Linked DNA regions of Homo sapiens: region 2 is linked to region 1. Evidence: fine-mapped expression QTL. A gene starts in region 1. The other region holds a variant in brackets. All regions are shown on one strand. Distances are from middle to middle.

Evidence for each region. PIP is the estimated chance that this variant, and not a neighbour inherited with it, causes the effect.
Region 2: its variant is the best candidate, but not a certain one, in a credible set for the expression of DAD1 in follicular helper T cells (Schmiedel 2018, PIP 0.76).

What each region holds. Positions count from the first base shown.
Region 1 is chr14:22,586,323-22,591,702 of GRCh38, reverse strand. It overlaps DAD1 (defender against cell death 1), which reads left to right and starts at 2,479. Exons shown (of 3, transcript NM_001344.4): 1 at 2,479-2,756. The coding sequence starts at 2,546. RefSeq lists enhancers at 2,199-2,840, 2,841-3,482.
Region 2 is chr14:23,477,427-23,482,806 of GRCh38, reverse strand. NGDN (neuroguidin) reads right to left here. Exons shown (of 11, transcript NM_001042635.2): 10 at 5,247-5,304; 11 at 4,634-4,800. The coding sequence ends at 4,781. Among named protein-coding and RNA genes, the nearest start is that of NGDN, 10 kb to the right of the region's middle. RefSeq lists an enhancer at 1-736. The variant T/A (reference allele first, on the strand shown) is at 2,542.

The DNA.
Region 1 (5,380 bases):
GCAATTTCCTATTGACAGATCAGTTAAAAATGTTTCAATGATTATAGAATCATAAACCGAATAGAGAAGTAGGCCTTTTCTTGCTGTTTTAAGTAGTTCAGAAAAGCCCTAGTGTAGTATATTGGTGTGACTAGCAGGTCTCAGAAACAAATGCATTCAATAAGTCCATTTGGTGTTTTTCATCTCTTCTTCTCTCCTGTGAGAGTTCCTGGGGAGATCTTAATGATGATAGTTGACATGGATCAAAGGCAGACAAAACATAAGGGAGAAAACACTGGAAGGAGCCTGGCTGATGGAACAGAAACTCCCTGAAGAATCCACACCTGAATGATTAAAAAGCATCAGCCTAGCCTGTAAAGTTTGAAGTTGAATATTCGTGAGGAAGCTACCCTCCTACTTGTTGATGAGGCAGAGAGAAAGGTTCAACTTGTCAGAGAAATTGATGCTTCCTGCCATATTATATTGAAATAAGAACCAGCTTGTTATCCACTCTTTTTTTTTCTTTCTCAGCAACATAGGTTTAGGCTGAACTTATGTTCATATAGCTGCACAAATCTCCACGGGTATGAATATAAATCTATCTATTCAAATAGACTCTAAAGGTTTCTTAGGTTATTTCTCTTCTTTCTAGAACTTAAGTAAGGCTTTGATCACCACTGATAATACATCCGTTAGTTAATGCGTGTAGAGTTTCCAGTCTAAAGGCAAATAAAAAGTGAAAAGGGGCCGGCGCAGTGGCTCACTCCTATAATCCCAGCACTTTGGGAGGCTGAAGCAGGCAGATCACCTGAGGTCAGGAGTTCAAGATCAGCTTGGCCAACATGGCGAAACCCCGTTTCTACTAAAAATACAAAAATTAGCCGGGCGTGGTGGCAGGTGCCTCTAATCCCAGCTACTCGGGAGGCTGAGGCAGGAGAATGGCTTGAACCCAGGAGGTGGAGGTTGCAGTGAGCCGAGATCGCACCATTCACTGCACTCCAGCCTGGGTGACAAGAGCAAAACTTCATCTCAAAAAAAAAAAAAAAAAAAAGTGAAAAGGCAGGAACGCTGTTGTTCACCTGCTGTTTTAGGAATTTTGCTCACGTACAGTTCAAAATATTAAGAAGCTGAAAATAAAGTACCTGGTCATGTGTGGAAAAACTTACAGCTAAAAGGTGAGATGAACTGGGTCTAGAAGGTCGGATTCACGTGAAATTAAAAGGGCAACGAAAGCCAGAACTTAATTTCTTAAAAAAAGTTAAAACAGGCCGGGTGCAGTGGCTCATGCCTGTAATCCCAGCACTTTGGGAGGCCGAGGCTGGCGGATCACAAGGTCAGGAGTTCGGGACCAGCCTGGCTAACAATGGTGAAACTCCGTCTCTACTGAAAATACAAAAATTAGCCGGGCGTGGTGGCGCGTGCCTGTAGTCCCAGCTACTAGGGAGGCGGAGGTTGCAGTGGGCCGAGATCGCGACACTGCACTCCAGCCTGGCCGACAGAGCAAGGCTCCGTCTCAAAAAAAAAAAAAAAAACAGTTAAAACCCTCAAAATAATCCCACTTGTTAAAATACAAAACCTGAAACCATTTCAGTTTCTTCTGCAAAATGAGTTGGAGAGAGTAGGGTTGAACCAGGCATGCTCTTTCGGGCCTTTCGACGCTGACATCCCGGGATATTACACCAGGTTCAAGATACCAGCTTGCGGAAAGAGAGCTGCTAAACTTGACCATATGCTTTTTGCACGACATTCGACAGCTGTCCCTCCCTTCACCAGCTCTTTTAAGGCTGCAAATATATCTGATTCACGTGAGAGTCCCTACAAGTTAGTACAACGTCAGGCCCCAAGGAGGCGCCCAATAAATGTTGGCATTGCAGGGCCAGATCCCGAGTTCCAGTTCAGAACCCTGCTGAGGTCAGGCTTCCTCCCTGCCTCCCGCCCCTCACCACACCCACTCACTCCCCCAAGTAATTAAGTCTAAACTGGGGCCTGTGCAGTGATTGGCCGCGCCGGGTCTCACTGCGGATGAACTTGACTTGTTCCAATGATCTGTGACAGACATCTGCAGACAGCGCCCTTAACAGAATTAGGGTCAGGCTGGTATCAAACCCCAGGAACGCCAGGCATTGCCTCAAAGTAGATGCAAACCGTTAAATCTTCCAGGACTCAGAAGGACCAGAGAGAGCCGGATACCTCTGGTTAGCTACGCGGTCCCCAGTAAAGCTTATTCCCCTCTTCCTCCCAGTGTGTCTTGTTGCCAGAGCAACTGTGGGCGTCACCGAGCTGACGGGCGGAAACAGAACAGAAAGAGTACACGTCCCCAGCTCATTGATAGGGCCATTGCGCAGACGCATTAACTTTTCTGAGTTGTAGTTGAGTCTGTTGATGCAGTCCGCGTCTGCGCATTAGTTGTTACGCGCCCTGGCCGGCCTCAGCGCCTGCGCAAATTGGCACACCGGGGAGGGCGGAGTTAGGTCACGAGGGTGCGCATGCGCAAACAGCACATCCGGTGTGGTCGACGGGTCCTCCAAGAGTTTGGGGCGCGGACCGGAGTACCTTGCGTGCAGTTATGTCGGCGTCGGTAGTGTCTGTCATTTCGCGGTTCTTAGAAGAGTACTTGAGCTCCACTCCGCAGCGTCTGAAGTTGCTGGACGCGTACCTGCTGTATATACTGCTGACCGGGGCGCTGCAGTTCGGTTACTGTCTCCTCGTGGGGACCTTCCCCTTCAACTCTTTTCTCTCGGGCTTCATCTCTTGTGTGGGGAGTTTCATCCTAGCGGGTAATGGTTCTATAAGTGATCATAATAATAATGTGTTACTTTGGTGTGCTGCTTTTGTTTTCATAGTACTCTATATCAGACCACCGCCCCTTGAAGTTATGAGAAGAGCCTGCATTGCCCTTTTGTTGTGAATGGGGAAATTGAGGCTCAGAAAGCTTAGATTATATGCCTAATACCAAACGGCTCCGTAGGAGTTGGACTTAAAAGTCTAAAGAAACCACCTTCGTGCCGCTACTCCACTTGGTGATCCACTTCACTTAATATTGGTCCGGGGAAAACCCTATTCCAACTTTAACTTAGGTTTAACACAACTCTAAAATTAGTAGACTTTTCAAATGAAAAACCCAACCTTGAATCATCTCTGTCATCTTGGCCTAATCATTACCAATCTCCGGTGAAACGTTTCAATGAAAGTGCAAAGAATATAAATACTGGTGCTTTTCTTGTTGAATCATCCTTTACTTGATTTTGCCTTTTAGCTGCTACTACTTTTTTTCTTGTTGAGGAAGCTGTTATTTCACTGTCCTGAACCCAATTTTTGTTCACATAACTCTATTTTAGCCTTATTTTTCCTTTTGATTCCAGGATTTGGTAACCTTGTAGACTGCTATATTTAGCGAGAACAGTCTCCATCAATTTTTGTTAAAATCTGACTTTTCTTGCCCAACGGGGATTCAGTGAATACTGAAAACAGGCGTGGCCTCTATCACTGGTATCACCTGCTACTTTGACTTTGAAAACATGCCAGCATTCATGGTTTCTTTTCAGTGTGATCATCAGTCAGGTCATCAGTTGTATTTTCAGTCCAATATGAGGCATTATGGTAAAAGCTTTGGCACATGTTCTTTATCCGTAAAGAGTTTATGGTCTAGTTGGGGTACAGACAAAATACAGCATTGGAATTGTCTGGAGGCCTGGCACAGTGGCTCATGCCTGTAATCCCAGTACTTTGGGAGGCCGAGGTAGGCAGATCACTTGAGGTCAGGAGTTCAAGACCAGCCTGGCCAACATGGTGAAACCCCATCTCTACTGAAAATACATAAATTAGCCAGGCATGGTGGCACACACCTGTAATCCCAGCTACTCGGGAGGCTGAGGCAGAATCGCTTGAACCCGGGAGGTGGAGGTTGTAGTGAGCCGAGATCGTGCCATTGCACTTCAGCTTGGGTGAGAGTGAGGCTCAGCCTCAAAAAAAAAAAAAAAAAGTCTGGTGACAGTGGTGCTGTGCTTAAAGTTACAGACCTATAGAATGCTTATTGTACATTTACATTGTTCTGACACACCAGAGATATTTCTTAGAATTTAAAACAGGTCTGAGGATCTAATGACTTGTGTACTGAAGTTGCAGATTAGCCTTTTGATTGGATATTTAGTTACCATCTTTGACTTTTGTCCTAGATGACCAAGACCTAGTTGTCTGTGGTGGCGTCCTTGCCTTCAGGATGTGTTAACCATCATCCGACCAGATACACTACCCCTTTGCTCTAAGTATTCTCCACCACCCACCCACCGCCCTCTGCCACGGTACTATATGTTTTTATTAGCCAGCCCGGAGAAGGAACCTTGATGAGAACTTTTGATTTAATTTTGTTTGATGTTTTTGTTTCCAGGTCTGGAAGAGTAGGAGCAAGGCAGGGTCTGAAAGCTGATTTTAAAAAAGATGCCTTCTCCATGTAGAAGTCACCCTGCCTTCATAAGCCTCTAGGGTCTAGAATGATTTTTCATGGATGCTTTGAAGAATGTGGTTTGCTGAAGAGTGGGCATGGACTAGAGTTATAGATTATCAGTGTAATAAAGCCAGAAGGTTTTTTTGAGCAAATGACTTTCACTTATGCCAAGACCTGTTTTTGAGCCCGTTGTGGCTGAAATTGAATTGGCAGACTGGACTGCCTTTCTCCTCTCCAGTGGGAACTAGGTGGCTTGTCATTGAAGAAAAACCTAGTAAAAGGGCATATTAGTAATGGGGCCAATAAGGGGGATTAGGATTTCCAGATCTGTTAGATAACAGATAATAGAGCTATAGAAATGAAAGCAACTTCAAGAAAAGAAGGGATTCATGATAATTCTTAGTTGCCACAGAAGGGTATGATTTACCCTTCTTTTGACAGCATTGACTTTCCTAAATCCTGCCTCTTCTGCCATTTGTTAGCCTAGATCATCAACTGGAGACTGGTTTTAATGGGAAATTTGGACGCTTATCCTTTGTTTTGATTGTTGGCAAAGGTAGCCTTGTTCCTTTTTATGGTGCTGGGGTTTCTAACTTTCCTGTGGAATTTCCTGTTGCAAGAGAATGGAGGAGTCCAGTGAGCTGGGAGAGGGAAATGTAGGCGATACTGTTGAAGGATTAGGTAGTGCTGGGTGCTAGATGTTTGAATGCCAGGCCAAGGAATTTGGACTTTTTTTGAGATGGAGTTTTGCTCTTTTTTCTCAGGCTGGAGTGCAATGGCGATCTCGGTTCACTGCAACCTCTGTCTCCCAGGTTTAAGCAATTCTCCTGCCTCAGCCTCCGAAGTAGCTGGGATTACAGGCATGTGCCACCACGCCCGGCGAATTTTGTATTTTTAGTGGAGACGGAGTTTCTCCATGTTGGTCAGGCTGGTCTCAAACTCCTGACCTCAGGTGAT
Region 2 (5,380 bases), 890 kb before region 1:
CCAGGGAGGAAGGATCTGTCACATTTTTAATAATAATAAATACATGAAGACAGATTTGCCAGCACTGCTCTGGCTTCTTGGGAAGTGTGGGGGAGGGGAAGTAATGCAGCTGCAGCACACACCAATATCTCCCCCTCCCCTCCCCCATTAGATAGGCTCAGTATTGCAGCAGCCTCCCCCTCCCCCTCTAACCGCAGTCCTCCCCTTCACAGCCCACCCTTTCCACGGTCCCGTCACACAGTTCTGCCCCTCCTTCCCCTACTTGTATCTCTACTCACTCCAACCCCACTCTGTCCTTTCAGTGCTGGTCCTCATTTAACACATGCTTACTCTAGCTGGAAGAAACCTTAGCACCTACATCTTAGATGAATGAATCTGTTCCCCCAATCCTGAGGCTCTGCTGTTTCCAATCAGTGCCCTTCACTAGCTGACAGCAATCTTCCCCTACACCCCACACAACACTCCCACAGATGTAATCCAGCACATTTCAGCATTTCCTGGATTCCACCAAAAAGGATTGCTTTTCTCCCCGTTTTAATCTCAATGTGACCTCCTTTCTCACATCCTTCCTTAAATATAATGGCCATCAAATGTGTTTGTGTTTAGGGGGTGTCAGGGCCTCAGGACTCAGTGACTACTGCCACCTATTGACCCAAGTTTGTTCACGATAGACCTTTAATACACTTCTTACACAGCGACGCTCTGTCATCTCAAAAGCATCAATAGCTTAAACATGCAAAGGCATGGCTCTGGGGGCTTCTCTGAGACCCTCTGAACAATGAGATCAAAGAAACACAAAAGCAAGACTGGGCAGAGAGCCAGAGCATTGATGCCTTTCCTCATGCAGAGGCAGAAAACGAGGCCCAAGGAATGAAAAAGCAACTTTAAGTCCCCTCAAGGTTCTCTAAGCAAAGATGAGTAGGGAACAGAGTTTTTCTTAAGGGCTGGTAAAAATTTCATGTATCATAATATAAATGATAAATGATGTTACCAATGGAGCAGGAGGCAGGATTCCACTCACATACCTCCATCAAGTTAGCCAAATCCTTGGCATGAATCTGGGATTTATGGACCTAAAAGATTCCAGGGAGGATGGGGGACACTCAGGGGTGTGTTTGACTCTCATCCAATCTGTACCAATCAGAACTGGAGACTGGACAAACTGGGCTCTGAAAAAGGGCAGGTCTACACCACGCAGCTCTATGGTTTAGCTGTGTCCCATTCACCAAACCAAGGAATGAGGAGCGTTTGAACTCTCCATGGTGCTGAAAATTGACACACTAATAATCTCCCCTGCAAACAAAACACAGTTTTCCTAATAAGGTATCTATGAAGACTGTTGTGAATTCCCAATAGACATTTCCCCAAGCCTTCATAAAATCCTAACAAAACAATGATTTTAAGGCAAAGACAGACCTTGGTCAAACTCTCTTCCCTGTCCCCTAAGATGAAAAGAATGAGGCAGAGATGTAAATTACTTCTACAGAATAAAGCTATCACATGACAAAACCATCACATGATAAAACCAAACAGGTAAGGTGCTCATGTGTGCATTAATGACAGCTATTACTTAGTGAACACCAGAAATGATCTGTTGTCAGCAATACACTGAGGAAATCCGATATTCATATGGTCTGAATAATCAGATAACTGAATCTATTAGTAGGAATAAGGGAAAGAAAAAAAGTGACCAGAACAGCCATAACGAAATCCTAAAATTCTAGTTCTTAGTTCCCTTGTTCTACTACCCTAACAGTTGTTTTCAAACTATATTCTAAGGAATTCTAAAGGTTCCTTGGGGGCTCCTCAGGAATCTTGGGGAAAGGGGGTCATAAGAACATGGAACTTCAGGACCCCTCATTCCCACTTCAATCAAAGTAACCCCACTTATGCTTGTTTTACATATTGAGAATCCATGTAATACTCCATCAAACAATACACTCTAAACAGTGTTTGATGACTCTGGTACAAATATTCTCAGAAATAGTTCAACTTTTTACCAGAAACTTCTTTCAAATAATGCCTAAAAGCCAGGGAAAACAAAATGTCCTGGGATTAAAGACTTGATTGAATTAATATAAGGTCCACAAAGGCAGGGATTTTGTCTGCTGTGTTCACTGGTATACCACAAAGAGACCAGAATTGTGGAACTTAGGGTTTCTTTGAAGACGAGGCCTGTAACAGAAATGGGGCAGTAGGGCGGGGGAGCTAGATTATAAACCACCTACAAATAAAAAAAGATTTTTTAACCCTGAAGATTTTCATGAACCACAGGACACTTGAAGTCCTCCATCCTCAGTGTTCCCCAAGCACTGGTTCTCCAACTCAGGAAAAATTGTTTGCCCTAAGTGTCTAAGCTTCCTCACTAGTAAAATGGAGATTTCATAAATTTTATAAGGATTGCCAGGCGTGGTGGCTCATACCTGTAATCCCAGCACTTTGGGAGGCCAAGGTGGGTGGATCACGAGGTCAGGAGATTGAGACTATCCCGGCTAACACAGTGAAACCCTGTCTCCACTAAAATACAAAAAATTAGCCAGG[T/A]GTGGTGGCACGTGGCTATAGTCCCAGCTACTCAGGAGGCTGAGACAGGAGAATCGCTTGAACCCAGGAGGCAGAGGTTGCAGTCAGCGGAGATCACGCCACTGCACTCCAGCCTGGGCAACAGAGTGAGACTCCATCTCAAAAAAAAAAAAAAAAATTTATAAGGATTAAGTATAAAGCACTTAGCTCAGCCTATAGCACAGGAATTTTTTTTTTTTTTTTGATGGGTCTTACTATCATTCAGTCTGGAATGCAGTGGTAAGATCATAGCTCACAGCAAGCTCAAACTCCAGGGCTTAGGCAATACCCCTGCCTCAGTCTCCCAAGCAGCTGGGACTACAGACACACGCCACCACACCTGCCTAATTTTTTTATTTTTATTTTTTTTTAGAGACAGGGTCTTGTTGTGTTAAACATGCTGGTCTTGAACTCTCTGGCCTCAAACTATCCTCCTGACCCAGCCTCCCAAAGTGTCCAGATTATAGATATGAGCCACCACACCTGGCCAGAAGGTAGTACCTGTTTTGTTTTGTTTTGTTTTGTTTTGTTTTTTAAAGAGCACTTCCCTTCCCCTGGAAGTTCCCATAATCCACAAATCTTAATAAATTAGAAACAAATATAGTGGTCCTAACAAGCAAATGAAGTGGTTTTAACTAAAGTATTTTTGAACTGAATCACTCATCTAGTTAGTTCAGCCATAAAGGAAAAAAAGTCTCTAAATCTGTTCTTGTGGCTCTTTGTTTAGATTCCCTTGAGGAAACAGAAGTATGAGAGCCCAGGGCATGTGAGACTCTCTCAGATCTATCAGGGACTAAAGGTTAGCGGCCCCAGACATAAGCCCATCTTGGTGTCATGCACAAAAGCTCTAGGCTCTTTGACTTGAAGGGAATCTCACAGATGAAGTCTAATACATTCCTTAGCTGAGGAAAATTAAAGGCCAGGGATATTAAGTGATTTGCCCAAGATCACAGAATTAGCCTAAGACAGCCATAGGTCCAGTCTCCTAACTACTTTCTACCAAGCGGCAGCTGAGTGAAAGACCCCTGCCCCAATCAGGCTGAATAGTATAAATCCAAATTCAGAAATTCAGAATCAACGAGGTTTTAGTCATATAACCCAAATTAATTTGTCTATCGATATAACCCAGCAATACTAGACATTAAAATCAGATGTTCATGAGACCCAAAGCCTTTTTTAAAAACTCCAATGAATTAATTCTACAGACCCAACTTCTATCTTTTTTTAATCCCTTTTTTCACTTTCTGTATTATCCAAGGCCTGTGGGACATCTCACCAACAGAGGTTATTCTCTCATTAGAATACAAGATCTCAGATGTATAACGCCCACCAGTCTCCTGGCTTGAGTTTGGCTAATTATTTCTGTGGGATTTTCATTTGTTTGGCTGTTAAGCTAGGAATGTTCTGCTTGTCTGCTGGCATTTTTTTTTTTTTTTTTTTTTTGCCAGCTCTTTATAGAAGGGTTGGCCTTTATTGACTCTGGTAAAATGACCCTCAGTTGAAGGCGGGGGGGTGGGGGTCAGAGTCTGAAAAACACAAGACTATACTGACTCTTCACTCTAGCCTTCTTACTCACTCTACTATTTTCTACAAACTCCCTCAGTAACTGACCAAAGATCAGCCTTATGTTCATGCTATTTCAGAAAGAAATGAAAAACATTCAGAGAAGTGGAGATAAGAATAATCTTGCTGATGTGGAAAGGTTCTATCTTGCTTTTGATTACAGCCAAGCTCAAGTTTCTTGAACCACTTATGCCACCTGGTGGCCAGCCCAGATAACACTAATAAAACCTAAAATTCATGTGTTAATATCTCAATCTGTATTGTATTATAACAAATCATACAGGAAGTTGTGGCAACATGGGTTGAAAGAGTTGATTATACCAGCCTCGTCTCTCAATACTTTTTGTGACGTAACCAATTTTTAGTTTTTGGGAAAAATATATTATCAAAGAAAACAATACAAATGTTTTGCACTTCCAAAAAAAATTTCCCTTTTCACCAACCACTCACCAAAAATATCCCAAACCCAACGACTCCAGTCGTACAATACATGTGCAAAAAGGGGCTTTAATTCATAAGCAAAATCAATTTTATTAGTAAGGCTCTTTCCACATGTCCAAAGCAAACAATTAATGAATTCCAGGGAAAACCACCTATATACAATGAAATTAGAAGTATCTCAGGATGACAAAAAATATACAAATATGTACACCCATAATCACCGCCGCCTCCGAAAACCTGAAAGGAAGGGAAACCAAGAATGAGGCAAAGGACAGTTGGAAAAGCTAAAGGGACAGGAAAACAGGACATCTAGAGGGAAGGGCTCACAGGGGTGGGGTCTCCTAGGCAGTACCCTGAATATCTTCCCAGGACAAAAGACGAGAAGTAGGAATAAAATTGAAATGGGATAATGGTTCCTTCAAGTGACACTTTACCAGTTCTATTTAGGGAAGCCTGAACAGGAGCTGTGGGACCTTAGAGGCAGAATCCAGAGATTCATTTTGTGAATGATGCTGATTTCCAGCTCAGGAAAGCAAAAAATAAAAGCCCACCTAAGGAGATTATTGCCCAGTATGGAAGAGATACTACAGGGCTTGGTGAGACCCAGAATGGCAAATCCAAAGAGACTCAATTTGTACTCCCCACCTTGCACCTGATCACCTAAGTCCCAGCAGTTCACTGACCTTTTTTCTTCCGACCTTTCTGAGGTATCTTCTTCCGCTTCTTAATAGGATTCTGATCCTGGAGACAGATGGAGAAGTGATGGAATGGCACTGTGGTTCTGAGAGCCAGCATCCCTTCCCAAGTTCCTCATGGT